3 separate regions of the Homo sapiens genome follow, and regions 1 and 2 are each linked to region 3. The links come from fine-mapping of genetic effects on gene expression. A gene starts in region 3. Each other region holds a variant in brackets. All regions are shown on one strand. Distances are between the middles of the regions.

Region 1 (5,230 bases), 42 kb before region 3:
TCACTTTTCGGTCTCAGCCCGCCTGCACCCAGGTGAAATAAACAGCCTTGTTGCTCACAGACGCGCGTGACAGCGATCCTGCCCCCTTGGCCTCCCAAAGTGCTGGGATTACAGGCATGAGCCACAGCGCCCAGCCTGTTTGGGTATTTTTTAAATGCCAAGTTATTTTGTGCCCTGACACATTTCAGGCCACCTCTCTGCCCACATAATTTTATGATTATATGACCGCATTTACTGATAAAAAACGACCACCAAAAATATCTCCTTTTCACCTTGGCTTAATTTAAGACTGTCACTGAAGCATTTGATGATAATGTCTTAGGCATCTAAAATGGCAAAATTGCAGGCCTGTGGACAAATTAACAATTCTTCTTTGGTTCTTGCATTGGAGGTTCTGATACTTCAAAACATAGACTCCTTTATGATTTGTATTAAAGGGAGAGCACTATAGGAGGAAAGAATCAGAGTAACAATGCTGTTATCGAAAATCACAAACCTTTTTGGAATTGCATTTGATGCAAAATTATAGACTGTCTTCAACTTCCTTTTTGCAGCTGTGAGTTGTTTAGTATTTAACCATGCAACCTTAAATTACAGAGAAGATGGGGGAAAAAAATCTCTGTTCAGGGCGTTGTCTCCACTCATCTTTGTAGATATCTTGGTGTGAACATAGCGTAATATTCCCATTAATTGTTATATAGACTAATTCTAACACTGACTTCTAGGTTCTTTGTGTAGTTTTGACAGTGGTATATTCATAAAATGGAAAATCTGGAAATTTTTCAAAGCTGAAATAAAACGGCAAGGATTTGGAACTAAAATCAAGGGTTTAACCTTTAAAAGAAATCAACTTAATTGTAAATTTCACTTCAAACATTTCCCGGGATCTGGAGAAGGCAAACTGCAGAAAGGTCAGCCAGATTGCAGTTGGGCAGAAAATCTCATTTAAACTGTATTATCACAACCAAAAAGCCCTATTTGGAAATCAGACGTAAATAATGCCAAGCAATCAGGGAGGTAGGAAGGACGGGTGGATCTCAGTGCCTGCCCCAGCCCCTGACTGCCTCTGACGAGAGGTGGACATCTGTTCTGCTCCGGGGGCAGAGGCAGGAGTATGGAGCTGTACTGCTGCTTTCATCACCCAATAGCCGGTGGCCTTAGAAAAAAGCAAATTAATTTTGGAGGCTTCAGTTCCCTCATCTGTAAAAAGAATGGGTGAAAAGAGATGATCTTTAAGGTTCCTTCCAGTTCAAAAAAGTTCTGATTCCAGGTCATTTTCTGATTCGCTGACATTGGTTCCTTATAGGAAGCCATCAAGGAAGAAATGAAATGTGAGCAGTGGCATGAACATTTGGTTCGAGAGTTTCTGGGATATTCTTGGCTGAAAACTGGTGTAACTGATGACTTACAGATAAGTGAGAAGAAAGCACCGTTAAAAGGATGGATTAGGCCAGGGGTGGTGGCTCACGCCTGTAATCCCAGCACTTTGCGAGGCTGAGGCGGACAGATCACATGAGGTCAGGAGTTCAAGACCGGCCTGGCCAACATGTTGAAACCCAGCCTCTACTAAAAATTTTAAAAAATTAGCAAGGCATGGTGGCACATGCCTGTATTCCCAGCTACTCAGGAGGCTGAGGGAGGAGAATCGCTTGAACCCGGGAGGCAAGGGTGCAGTGAGCTGAGATTGTGCCACTGCACTCCAGCCTGGGCAACAGAGCAAGACTTTGTCTCAAAAAAAAAAGTGGGGGAGGGTGGATTAAAATTCTGCTCTGCCATTTCCTTCTTTGTGCTGATACATACAAATAAAGTAAAACACCTAGCATCAGATCAGGTACCTTGGAGGTAAACCCCACATAGAAGCTATGGATGATGTTGAAATTTGGCCACCCATTGAAGCAGGATGAGTGCATGTACAGAAGAACACCCGAGAGGCAGAACTGCTGAAATAGCCTAAAACCTTTAGGCTACTGTGAGAGGCCACTGTGAACTATCGAGGCAGCTACAAAGAGAAACAGCCTAGGTGGTTGCTTTAGAAGGACGATTCCTTCTACCAGGTGGAACAGTAGTGGGACAGGTCACCAAGCTGGGGACACTCAGCCTGCAGTGGTCTATCCTTAAACCATGTGGCCCTGAGAATTAGTCCTGGAAATTCCCTTCAAGTCAGTGGTGATGAGAATCACACAAATAACTATACCAAGAAAGCCAAGGTCAACACAAAGTAGAAAAGTCCTAGGAATGGAGCCTCAGGTGTCAGTCTTGGAAAGAGACAGGGCAGGGTCCGAGGAAGAGCTGCAGAGGAAACATAAATCAATGAAGTGGCCTCAGACAGGCCAGGATGGCTCCTGGCTTGTATTGGACTCTTAATACATATTTATTCATTGACGGGCTCAATGGATGGATAGATGTTGTGCCTGAAGTTAAAGAGGCACGAGGGACAAAGGAGTGTGAAAAATGGCAGAATCCATGTCTGAAAAAGCTCTGTTTTCTTCTGCCCTGGTTATTTTTTGGTTCCTCACCTCCTTTCCTGTCTGAGGACTGTCTCAGGCATTCCCAAACCCGAGCAAACCCCAGAGATTTCCTGAGTAGGACCTTGCAGCCTTTGACAGTAACGCACGGTAGCAGTTGTCATTGTGTCTTACTCAATCTCCCTGTCTCTTTTTGTTCTCATTGCTCTTTCCGTAGTCCAGCTCTCTGACTACTCTGACATTCTGGCCCAATGGCCTCCTCATGGTCCACTCCAGCATAAGCCATTTGATCATTTAGCATTCCACAGGCTTTCCAAAATACTTTCCAGGCCTCTGCACTGTGCCTCAGTTAAAACCCCAGTTGCTTTGTTTGACATGCCA[C/T]CATTTGTCCTGGTATGACATTCCAAGCATGCTTTCTACTTTCCTCCAGGAACCTTCCGGGGCAGCCCAAACTTTTTGCCCTCAGCCTCCACTGTCATCCCCACCCCACTCACTGGTGCATATGAGCTCATGCATTTCCTTTGTCCGCAATGACCTTGGCTCATCCATCCATCTATCCAGCCGCTCACCCATCATGAGCTTCCTACCAGCCATCAAGTGCTGGTCAGTATGTGCTCATATCCCTGCACATCCCTGTCCATACCCCCATCTCACTTCTTTCTGGGCTCTTTTCATGTACTAATTCTTGTTTGGTGATTGTACCAGCAATCCCAACCAGATAACAAGCACCTCGGGGGAAGGATGATGTCCTGTGTTCCCTTCCTGGCGCTATCTGATGAACAGAAACATTAAGGAGACCTCTGGGGGACTTGTGGATTGACAAAGTCATTTTCAATAAGTTTTGTTAGTTAAAGTAAAGGCAAGCTAACTTTCTGAAGGCTATCTAAAAATAGAATTTTAAAACCAGCATTCCCATCTGAGTAATAAATTCAATTAGATTTTTGGATTTAAAAAAAAAATGTGATATTGGTTTTTCATTTCTTCTGCTAGTTGTTTCCAGGCAACCTTGAACTTGTCAAATAAAAAAGTATAAACAGAAGACTATGAGTTTTATGACCTTACTTTGAAAATCCTGCCCTCGGCAGGCTAAACACACTCTCAGCATTATGACTAGACATTTCTTAAAGGCCAGCCCCTAGGTTTTTCTTGGGGGATTTTAGGATGAAAACATAGGATGTGGAGTTATATACTCCAAATAATTTGAATCCTGACTTTATCGTTGTGAGATTGGAATAAATCATTTAAACTTTCTGACCTTTGGTTTCTTAAATTCTGAAATAGGCATCATCCCCCAACCTGCCTACCTTACAGTGAGGTGACTGAAGAACAAAGATGACCTTTGTCATCGTCTTTGTCCATCATCACCATCATCCATATCATCTCTAGAATTAATATAAAAAAGGCAGAGAAGGAGAGGCAGATCCCTGGACTTCATGCCTGGCTGGGAATGTAGGAGCAAGCCCCCAGCTCCTGCCAGGGTCAGCACACGAGCAGCCATGGCCAGTTCCTGAGGCACAGCCACCCCATGCAAAGGTCTGCATCCCAGAGGCACCTCTACGCAGCCAGAATCAATTTGCCTGTACTTTCTTGCCTTCCAGCTCCTTAATCCTTGGCCCAGGATGGCTCACTTCAACCCATCACCTGCTTTGGCTCTGGGCCCCAAGCTTCCTGAAGGGCCCAGTCTTTTCCAGCTGCTGGGACCAGTTTGGGGTAACCCTTACAGCAATGGGAATGGCAGTTCCAGCTCCAGGCTGGGGTAAATCAAGGAAGCCTTTGCTGTTTGTTCTGAGCTTGGTTTTCAGCTCCCAAGAGCTGCATGTGATAGCTCCCCTCTCCCTGTTAACACAGTGGAGGAACAATTATCTTCCTGGTGAAAATTGTTGGGACTGTCTTCCCTTCTCTGTTTGCAGGCAGCACCAAGTTGGGACGAATGAAATAAGAACGTGAGGGAGAACAGCCCGGGCTGTTCGCTTTCACAAACCCCTCGGGTCTTCAGACTAATTCTGAAGATCACCAGGAGACAATTTCTAAATGAAGAAAGGGAACACTGGGCTTATTAAAAAGCCTCCTCCTTCTTGCAGAGTAGAAGGATCCTTCTATCTCACCAGAAAATATGCCATTTCATAAGAAACCTAAATTGTTTTTTCTATGGTGACAAAATGAAATGTTCCTTTGTCAAGAATGAGCAAGCCTCAGAAAAGAGAGCCCCTCCCTGCCCAGCCATGAGGAGCGATTTTGCTACAATTTCTGTCCATTTTAAGATCAATGCAAATTACTCAAGTGATTTGAGAGCAGTCGTGGAGGGCAATTCTTTTGGGAGAGATTTTCAAATTGTGTTTTAAGTCCTCGAGGCCGGTTCCCAAGACAGAACTGGACCTTCTCAATGACCGGGACCTTGTTATTCTGGAATAACATGTTATTATGGGACATCATTATGCTTCATCCTGACCCCATGAAGTTTATGAGACAGGCCCAATTATTGAGCCATATGGCAAAGAGAAATTTGGGTAAACAAATTTGTATTTCAATAAAATTTAGAGTCCCATAAAATATAATAATTAAGATGTACATGACAGCAGGTGCGCTTGCTTAAAGCTGCCTTCGCAGCTCACCAGATGGTGTGCCCTGGGTGATTCATGTTCCAGGAGCAGAGAATTTTCAGGCAGGTAATCTTTGCAATATTCTCTTTTGTCCATTTTTCTTTTGGGCAGTATTTCTGATTCATTGTATCACCCCTTCCAATCAGCTTTGTTTTAGAGAATTTC
Region 2 (5,230 bases), 43 kb after region 3:
TTTTGTATTTTTAGTAGAGATGGGGCTTCGCCATGTTGGCCAGGCTGATCTCGAACTCCTGGCTTCAAGTGATCTGCCCGCCTGGGCCTCCGAAAGTGCTGGGATTACAGGCGTGAGCCACCACGCCTGGCCCCTTGATTTTTTGTTGTTGTTGTTGTTGTTGTTGTTTTTACGTTTTAGTCTTTTTTTTTTATTATACTTTAAGTTTTAGGGTACATGTGCACAACGTGCAGGTTTGTTACATATGTATATATGTGCCATGTTGGTGTGCTGCACCCATTAACTTGTCATTTAACATGTTAATGCTATCCCTCTGCCTTCCCCCAGAACAGGCCCCGGTGTGTGATGTTCCCCTTCCTGTGTCCATGTGTTCTCATTGTTCAATTCCCACCTATGAGTGAGAACGTGCGGTGTTTGGTTTTTTGTCCTTGCGATAGTTTGCTGAGAATGATAGTTTCCAGCTTCATCCATGTCCCTACAAAGGACATGAACTCGTCATTTTTTATGGCTGCATAGTATTCCATGGTGTATATGTGCCACATTTTCTTAATCCAGTCTATCATTGTTGGACATTTGGCCTGGTTCCAAGTCTTTGCTATTGTGAATAGTGCCGCAATAAACATACGTGTGCATGTGTCTTTATAGCAGCATGATTTATAATCCTTTGGGTATATACCCAGTAATGGGATTGCTGGGTCAAATGGTATTTCTAGTTCAAGATCCCTGAGGAATCGCCACACTGACTTCCACAATAGTTGAACTAGTTTACAGTCCCACCAACAGTGTAAAAGTGTTTCTGTTTCTCCACATCCTCTCCAGCACCTGTTGTTTCCTGTCTTTCTAATGATCGCCATTCTAACCGGTATGAGATGGTATCTCATTGTGGTTTTGATTTGCATTTCTCTGATGGCCAGTGATGATGAGCGTTTTTTCATGTGTCTTTTGGCTGCATAAATGTCTTCTTTTGAGAAGTGTCTGTTCATATCCTTTGCCCACTTTTTGATGGGGTTGTTTTTTTCTTGTAAATTTGTTTGAGTTCATTGTAGATTCTGGATATTAGCCCTTTGTCAGATGAGTAGATTGCAAAAATTTTCTCCCATTCTGTAGTGCCTCTTCACTCTGATGGTAGTTCCTTTTGCTGTGCAGAAGCTCTTCGGCCCGATGATTTTTTATTGTTTGCTGGACATTAAGAACAAGAAAGACTGAGGAATATCTATCCCGGCAAAAGGCTTGCTCTTCCTTTTGTCACACTGTTAATGAGGGGGACTGAGCTGGATCTGGGCTTTGAAGTAGCATTAATTAGAGTCAGTTTACCATTGGATTCACATAGTTTGAGAGTGGGATCACGAGTTTGTTTTCGGCAGTTTTCACTCCGAACCCCAGTAAGATCTTGGAGATCTCTTTATGCTTCAGAGCCAAGCTGCCAGCTTCCTGAGTGGTGGGAGATTTCTCTTTGTTTTATAGCTTGGCTGCTAGCCTTTCTGGACAGTGGTGAGTTATTTATACTCTTTCGATGGCTTTCAGCTCCTCAGAAGGTATCTCTTTGCCCTGCTCTTTTTAATTTTATTTATTATTATTTATTTTTTGAGACGGAGTCTCGCTCTGTTGCCCAGACTGGAGTGCACTGGCACGATCTTGGCTCGCTGCATCCTCTGTCTCCAGGGTTCAAACGATTCTCCTGCCTTAGCCTCATGAGTAGCTGGGATTACACATGCATGCCACCGCGCCTGGCTAATTTTTGTATTTTTAGTAGAGACAGGGCTTCGCCATGTTGGTCTCGAACTCCTGACCTCGGGTGATTCACCCGTCTTGGTCTCCCAAAGTGCTGGGATTACAGGCGTCAGCCGCTGCGCCTGGCCTGCCCTGCTCTTCTTTTCATTTCTTTTTTTTTTTTTTTTTGAGACGGAGTCTTGCTCTGTCACCCAGGCTGGAGTGCAGTGGCTGATCTCGACTCACAGCAACCTCTGCCTCCTGAGTTCAAGCAGTTCTCCTGCCTCAGCCTCTGGTGAAGCTGGGATTACAGGTGCCTGCCACCAAGCCCGGCTAATTTTCTGTATTTTTTGTAGAGATGGTAAAAGCTGATTTCTGTCCACTTACTTGCCTTCCTCCTGGTGTCAGGCTGCTGCTCTGCATCTAGGGACTTCACAGGTGCCTGACGTGACATAGGGGCTCTCTCAGCTCTCCTGCCCTAGCACCTTGTGCACTACCCATGTGTATTTGATTAAGGCCCACAGGAAAGAGTTGGCAAGTGGATGCAGATTTGCTGTGTTTTGGGGCTCCTGGAGATTCTAATCTATCATTTCAGCTCACATGGAGACATTAAAAGTTTGTTAACAGTTCAGCTGGTATCTTCTTACCCTTATCTATTGGCAGATTCTTTGTCTTTCCACCACTTTGCCACAGATGAAAACAGCTGTGGATTACTACTTTGCCTATGAAGGCCTTCTTGATATCTGATACTTACTTCCTGTAGGTTTCTTTGTGTTCTATCCACATTTTCTAAATCCTGGGGCAAATTGTCTCTGTGTAATGTTATAGAATGGAGGTTACAGTCATCCCATGGGATTTGATTCATTGAGGCAAAGTGGATAAAATATTTCCAAAAGGCATCATTTCTAAGTGGACTGGGGAGTTCACACCTTGGCTTTGCCACTTAGAGCTTTGTAGTAGTATTCAGTTACTCTCTGAAAGTACTGCTTTGTTAATTGGAGGTTAAAACACCCACATCTGTCATCCTCTTTGGGCTCCGAAGATTAAATGATGCAGAAGTACAAAGTAAACTTCCCAGGGCTTGAGTGGTTTGACTAGGATTACTGTAGGAAAGATTTTGAGATTTACCTTTAATGGTAGAGTGGGCAGTAAGGTGAGTGGGATGGATACAGGATGGCTTTACATTTCCTGAGCTGTCTTTACAGCAAGATTATATTTCATTTCAAATAAAAGAAGAGAAGGCTAGTGGTTAAAAGCATGGTCTCTGAAAAAAGGTTTTCTAGGTTTGACTCTCAACTCTATTATGTACTGTGTGACCTGGGGCAAGCCACTTCACTTCTCTGTTTCTTAGTTCCTTTGTTT[G/A]TAAAATGGGGATATTAATAGTTCCTACTTCATAGGATTGCTATGAGGACCAAGTGAGAGGCTAAGAATGTAAAGCAGAGTTCTGGCTCAGCATGGCAGGCTCAGTAGCAGTGAAGTACATTGCTTCTCATTTTTTCCTTTCTGGTTGCTCTCATGTCAGGGCAGGGCAGAGACAATCCTGGTTAGCTTTTCATCCCAGCAGAGAATTCAGATACAAATCCTGATTAAGAAGGTGTATTTAGTAAGATGTTTCACAATGCTCATGGGAGCTGGGGTGTCTCCGTTCTGCTGTTGGTTGGTTAGTACTGGAGGCCAGATGTTTTAGCTCCTCTTTCATGACTTTAATCTTGTGTTGGATTCATCACCAAAAGACGAACAGGAGCATCCGCTCTGCATTACTTATTACCTCCAAGAAGAAACACTGTCGCAGCACTGTAGAATGTTAATGTCTCTTCCCTACACACCCTCTCTCCACCTCTCCACTTCTGTCTTTCCTCCTTTCCTTAGTTGTGGGAATGTGGTATATAGTCAGGGTGATTTCTTTGTGGCAGGGTAGAGATGATTAGCAATTTGGTTCTCTTAGGTTGAAAATGCTTACATTTATAGGTTATATAGTAGATAGAGCCATGCTGTGTTGAAATCTCATGGTTTTGTGGGTTTATATAGTGTATTTTCAGCACTTTTAGGTGCAATAACATTCACTTGCTTTCAGATGTATTTTAAAAATTGCTGATTACTTTTGTATTAAGATTTGAGGTCATTAATTTTAAGCAGATTGATAAAAATGGTACTTAATCTCTGTGTATTTGGTATGTGAATTACGTAGCATTTATTTTAGGAAATTTCCATGGAATTCCATTTATCTCAGCAGTTTTGAGGGGAGAAGATAATACTGTAGATGTAACTTACTGGAGTGCTTTAATTTTAATTCTGTTGACTGTCTCTGTGTATAGGTTTATTACCACTTTAATTTCTTCAGTTTACTTTGTATGTGGAGTTCTATAGTCATTTAATCATTATTCCTGTGCTCAAGGTTCTACAGAGATGAGGCCTGCCTTTGGGCTCTTCTAGACTTTGAAAGAAGCATCTTGTCACTGGAGTATGGATGATGGGGGATGATGGAGAGGATAGGGGCAGAATCTGGATCTTGGTACCCTCCTGCCTTCAGGGTTGACAGATTCAGCTGGCATTTTATGCAGAATTCAAGTTATTAACAGAAAACTCTACAAGAGCAAATGAAGCTTTAGTTAAATAAACATGAGGATTTCAAATATCAGAATATCAACTGTTTGGAATATCTACATTCCTGTACCCTTTCAGTGAGTAAATTGGCCATAATTATCTTTATTTGTAGAAAACAAAGAGGTGCTGGTTCAGGGATATGTGATATATTGGCCACTGGCCTCAAGCATGAGTTTTGTCATTTGGAGACAGATCAGTGCTGCCACCTAACCTCAAAGAATGAGGATGTGGCCTGTCATCTGCATACACAAATGCAAAGATATCATCACTTCCTTTTTGCCAAGAGTGGGCTGAGTAAATTTGCCAGATTGTGGTGATTGTGCTTGTCTGCCGACAGGGAGCATGTTTTGCTTTTAGTTGTCCAGGGATAATAACTGCCGGTTATTAAATGCCTCTGCTACCTTGCTGTGTTCTTTGTCCATAAGACTTCATCCTCCCCTTCACATTTTAAGGGGAGGTATGGTTAGCTTTATTTTTATAAAAGGGGAGCTTGAGACTCAAACAGTACTAACTCTTCCAAGGTCCAGAGCTTTTCGATGGTAGTTCCGGGGTGGAACTCAGATCTCTGACCCCCATACCTCTGATCTTTCCCCTTTACCATGCAGCCTCTGGGCTTCAGAAAATGTTTCCTACAGGATTATATTGGATGCCACTGATTAAATGATTACTGCTACTTAATTAATTGGAGATAGAATTTGATGCTAGAAATGTTTTTGGCAATAATGAGTTACTTAGGTGACTGAACTTTTACATTTATTTCTAGGAGGTCATTTTTTCCTTGTTTTTGTTCGTTTGTATCTTCTCTCATAAATTGTAGTATTCTTGTGGCATGATGGTGGGCCATTTAGTTCCCTGATTACTTTAGATATAGTGAGTTAGGTTTTGACTAGAGGCTCAGGAGCTTTGAATGTAGACA
Region 3 (5,230 bases):
TTCATTCACCTTGTGAGGGACATCTTTGATTCTTCCAGGGTCTCGTGATTATGAATAAACATTCGGGTACAAGTTTTTGTGTGGGCATGTTTTCAGCACAATTGGGTAAATACCTAGGAGTGTGATGGCTGGACTGAATTGTGAGACTATGCTTAGCTTTGTGAGAAACTGCCAGACTGTCTTCCAAAGTGGTCGTACCATTTTGCATTCCCATCGGCAATGGATGGGCATTCCTGTTGTTTTGTATCCTTGCCAGTATTTGGTATCCTTAGGTTTTTTGTTGTTGTTGCCGTTAGCTTTTTTATTTTAGCCATCCTAGTAGGTATGTCATAGTATTTCATTTTTGTTTTAATTTGCAATTCCTTAATGACACATGATATTGAGCATGTTTATTTGCCATCTGTGTATTGTCAACTCCACTTTAGGGAGGTGTCTGTTTAGATCTTTTGCTCACTTGAAAATTGGATTGTTTTTTAATTGACACCTGAGTGGCCTTTTTAAAAAAGTGGGTCTTATGAATAAATAGAGTGAGGGCTCAATCATGAATTCATTTATTCAGCAACTACATCAGGTACTGCCACTCTCATACCCAAGGTCTGCATTCCTCTTTTCCATTACTAACAAAACTCTAATATTCCTCCAGCCAATGCCCCAACTTTAAATACTTAGCATTTCAGACTCCTTTGCAGCTAAAGGTGGTCATGTGACATGTGGCTGGCCAATAAAATGCAAGCAGAAGGTGCTGGGTAAAGCTTCCCAGGAAGATGCAGACCCAACTGGGCATGCACCTCTTTGATCTTTTGCCCTTTACCCATCCCCCTACCATTTTCCTCAATGTGATGCAATGCTTACAAGGGAAGCAGGCATCCTGTGAGGATGAAGACAGAGATCACATGACAAGGATAGCAGAGACAATGGCTAGAAAGAGCCTGAGACACAACGACACCATAGAAGAGATATTACAGAAGCCCTGTGGCTGTCTCCAGGTTTCTGGTTTTGTGATAAGAAGCACTCCTATTTAGTAGGCACTTTTAGTCAAGATTCTGTTACAGGTCACCAATTCACTCCCTGATGCAGCAACATTTTATTAAGGATGAGGCACTTATTAGCGGTGGGCTCTAATCCTCTAACAAGACTGCTCTAAGCAGTTTTTATTTAAAGGACTGGTTCACACAAGACCATATTTGAAATAATTTATTTGTACCATGAACCACAACACTAGGAATAGAATCATATTTACCACATGCTCAGCACTGTACTAGGCATTATAAAAGGAGGAAAGAGGACTGTAAAATAAGGGCCTTATCCTCATGGAACTGATGATCTAATTAGAGAGGTAAGACTGACCTATATGAAACAAACCTGAACACTTTGGGATGATGTGTTTAAGGGCTAACAGTGAGTGCAAACTAAGTGTAGCAGCGGTTTATAAGGCTGGGGTCACCGAAGAGGGAAGCAGCCAGGGAAATATGATTAGCAACCTTGAAAACACTCTGGGTATCTATACTTTCATATTTTTGAGTTCTAAATTAATGACCTAAACATAGACATGGAAGCCATTCCCCTGGGTAAGTGAAGATGAAATGAAGGAAAGTCATTTTAATTTGAATGCCAATTTAGCTTTCAATTCAGCAGACATTTGTCACTCTAGTATCAATATTTAAAATACTGGGTCACTGTAATTATTCACCAAAATCCTGTTTACCTTGTTAATTACCAGCAATTTTTTAAAATGATGGCACTTTATGGAAACTGAATATACGTCATCTTTAAAAAGAGCTTTTAAAATCCCTCCTTTGGAAGTAATGCAGGTTAATAGATTAGACATTTTATGAAGAGGGCTGCATGATTTTTCTACTGCATTTCTGGTGTTGCAAACTTTGGTGAAATTATTAACTGCTATTCATTTTTTCCAACTTTTAGTTGTCTCTAGCTAGATGTTGATCATTATTACACATCTGTAAAGAAAAGAGCAAACCAACTTGAATTAGTGTTTCTTGAACTATTCATTAGAATTTAAAATTTTTTCCTAAAAGTTTTTCAATTTAGTGATCCTATTGGTAAATAAAAAGAATAAAGGCATGCAAATTAAAATAAAGGTAACATTTCTATTAGATGTTTTTAAACCCCTTTCCTTTGTGACCTAGCTTTTCTATCTTGGCTTTTCTATCTTTTCTTCTCTTCCTTTCCTTTCCTCCTTTCTTTTTCTTAAGTTTGTTTATGCCTCAGTCATCTGGTCGCACGTGGCTATGTTCCACTGTGGCAGGGCTTAGCTGGCAGTTTCAGGGATATCTTAGTTTTAATAAGTATTGTGGATTTCCTCACATCTAGGGTGGAGAGAGATTGGTTATAGGGTGATAAAAACAGAAGAATCTGTGTTGAAGGAGATGGGAAGATTTTAAGAATGCTAACGAATTTGAGCAGGGCATAAAACCAACCCATGAACAGGGCTACAGTCCTCTCAGGGTTGCCTGAAGCCTCAGCCCTGGAGGACGTCTGACACCTTACAGGTAGAGGACCTCTGTGCAGGAGCCCTCAACACCCAGGGAGGATTAGGATATAAGCGCAAACTCAAAGGTACTGTAATGGGCACCTAGCAATCAGAGGTGATACAAGGGTCTCTTGGCCCGAAGTATCCCCACCTCTCCTCGCTGGAAAGGACGCTGCCTAAGCCTCATCCCGAGCTGGGGGCGGAGGACCAAGGGTGAGAGCCACCGCCTCCGCAATCCCCCGCCCCTCGGCACCGTCGCTCAGCGCGCTCGCCGGCTCCCTATTGGCCGAGGCACTCGCCAATCCTGGTGAAGCGGCCCCGTGAGTTGGCCCTGGTTGGTGGAGCCGGCACTGAGCCCCCCTCCTGCTCCGGCCGAGCCCCCCCGCCGGGAGGGGGCGTGGCCGCGGCCGTGGACGGGCCGGAGGCGGCGTCGCTCGCGCCGCTGCGTGCGGTGTGGTGCGAGGCGGGTGCGCCGGGCGGCCGCGGCGCGGCGGGACCATGGAGCTCAGAGCGCAGCCCCGGCGCCGGCGGCGGGACCGCGGACCGGTGAGTGAGGGCTGCGGTCGCCCCGGCTCTCCGCTGTAGGCTGCTGTGGCCCTCTCGGCTCCGGGCCGGGCGGCTGTCGGGGGAGGGGCGGCCCCACGGCGAACTGAAGTTGCTGCATCGCCGCGCGCTCCGGCCGGGCGGCGGGGCCCACTGCGGGCTGCGGCGCCGCCTCGCGCCTATCCCTGCAGCCCGGCCGCATTCTCCCGGCCGGCTCCCGCGCTGGCAGGGGCTTCTCGCCGTCACGGCGCGGCCAGGCGGCCCTTCTCTCCCGCGCCTCCGGGCCTCCGGCCCTTTGCCGTCCGGTGCGCGCTCCCTGGACTCGGGACAGCCACCCGCCCTCCCCGCCGTAAGTGGCGCCCGGGCCTCCGCTCGCGCCCCACGCACGACGCCCCGGGCCGCTCCGCGTCCGGGACCTTCGCATCCGTTCAGTGTCTGCGCGCCCTCGCTGGTTCTGGTCCAGCTCCGCGTGCCCCCCGGCCCCATTCGGCCCTCGCCGCCCTGGCCTGTGCCCTCTTGGTGCCCGCGTGCGTGTTGGTTGCGGGCGTCCTCTCCCTCGAGGCTGCGGTGCCGCGTGGCTCCCGGCCTCGGAGACCAGGCCGGACTCTTGGAGTGCAGGGGAGGAGGTGGGGCGGCCCGCGAGTGCGGGGGACCGCGCGCACGGAGCCGCGGCGCGCGGGGTATCATCCCCGGGGGTCTTTACCCGCGCGCCTGGGCTTTAGCGAGGGCAGAAGCTTCCTCTCAGTTTGTGGTGCTGACGTGCAATGGCGATTGCTTCTTGATTTGGCCCCTCTGCAAGGGAGAGTTCCCTGGTGGAGACGAGAGTTCTTAATTATTCAGAAACTATGTGATGGGCTTAGGGATCAATGGGAGCATCATAGGAATTCTTTCTCATTTTAAGGTTAATTTTTAAATTAGCGGTTTACTTCCAGCAACAGTCTCGAGTTTTCAAAAACTGAAAATTAAAAAGACTACTTTTCGCAGTTCTTCAAATTAAATGCATAGCAGAACATGGTATTTTAAGATTCAGAGTCTACTTTTTATAAGGGGGAGAGGATAGCTATTTGAAATATTTTGCATCTTAAAAATTAGGTTTATCTAAAGCTTAAAATGCGACTCTATCAAAACTAAGTTCAAAGTATTGTAATTGACTAATCTTTCTATTGTCTCTAGGGCAAATTCTATTGCTTCTTTTTATATGTGCTTTACCCAACTCTCCTTTTCTAGCAGTTAAACAATGCAGTGGTTCTTTAAAGCTAGTTCTTTTATCTGCTTGAGAGGTTAAACAAACGAAAGCTGGGTTTGACCTTTCCCAAAGGCATTCTCATTGTGTCCTCTCCAGCTCCCTTCTCCCAGGGTTCTAATGACTTCAGTGTAGTACTCATTTTTCTTCATCTTGAAAGATTTTCTTAGTTGGTATTCACAAAAGCTGTGTCTTTTCACATGTTTAAATATTGGAAAGTTTGGTCAACTATTATATTTACCTTCCAACCTGTGCTTATTCTAGAACTATGTACATATAGAAATTGTTCTTGCATTTCCAGTTGGCTGACATGAAGTTGCTTAATAGCATTTGTTTTTAAAAAATCTGTTTGCTTTAAAATTTACAACCTAATAGTCAATGATGTGCTTCACTATCTTCAACAATTACGAAAACAAAGGTGGAACACACTTTGCTAAGTGGTCATGCCAACATTGTAACCTCCTATCTCTTGTCAGTGTGTCTTTGTAGTCACACGTTACGGTTCCCATAGAAACCTATGTATGGCAGGTAACCTTTTGGTTATTGGGATGTTTTGATTAAAACAATTGCGTTATAATGCAAGTATTAAATGAATTGTCCCTACTCACGGGCTAGTACTAGTGATCGTCTTTGGAATTCCAAGGACTTTCTTTGAAGAGTACTCCCAGATTGTTTTTCACTTTGGGTGGCTCTCCATTGCTGTAGACCTTGAATCTCTTTTTCTTTTCTTTTCTTTCTTTCTTTCTTTCTTTTTTTTTTTTTTTTTTTTTTTTTTGAGACGGAGTCTTGCTCTTGTCTCCCAGACTGGAGTGCAGTGGTGTGATCTCGGCTCACTGCAACCTCCGCCTCCTGGGTTCAAGCGATTCTCCTGCCTCAGACTCCCGAGTAGCTGGGAGTACAGGCGCCCGCCACCATGCCCGGCTAATTTTTGTACTTTTAGTAGAGATGCAGTT

Alleles and levels. Alleles are on the strand shown, and positions count from the first base shown. SD is a standard deviation of normalised expression in the study named. Not every link is listed here.
In carriers of allele T in region 1, the expression in subcutaneous fat of the gene that starts at base 2,901 in region 3 tends to be lower than with C alone (small effect, 0.23 SD a copy in GTEx).

The links. PIP is the estimated chance that this variant, and not a neighbour inherited with it, causes the effect. A credible set is the group of variants that fine-mapping cannot tell apart.
Region 1: its variant is the best candidate, but not a certain one, in a credible set for the expression of WASF3 in subcutaneous fat (GTEx, PIP 0.64).
Region 2: its variant is the best candidate, but not a certain one, in a credible set for the expression of WASF3 in whole blood (INTERVAL, PIP 0.61).

What each region holds. Positions count from the first base shown.
Region 1 is chr13:26,513,053-26,518,282 of GRCh38, forward strand. No RefSeq gene overlaps it. Among named protein-coding and RNA genes, the nearest start is that of WASF3, 42 kb to the right of the region's middle. The variant C/T (reference allele first, on the strand shown) is at 2,847.
Region 2 is chr13:26,597,303-26,602,532 of GRCh38, forward strand. The region is part of intron 1 of WASF3 (WASP family member 3); the gene reads left to right. Among named protein-coding and RNA genes, the nearest start is that of WASF3, 42 kb to the left of the region's middle. The variant G/A (reference allele first, on the strand shown) is at 3,073.
Region 3 is chr13:26,554,783-26,560,012 of GRCh38, forward strand. It overlaps WASF3 (WASP family member 3), which reads left to right and starts at 2,901. Exons shown (of 10, transcript NM_006646.6): 1 at 2,901-3,037. RefSeq lists silencers at 2,475-2,534, 2,795-3,004.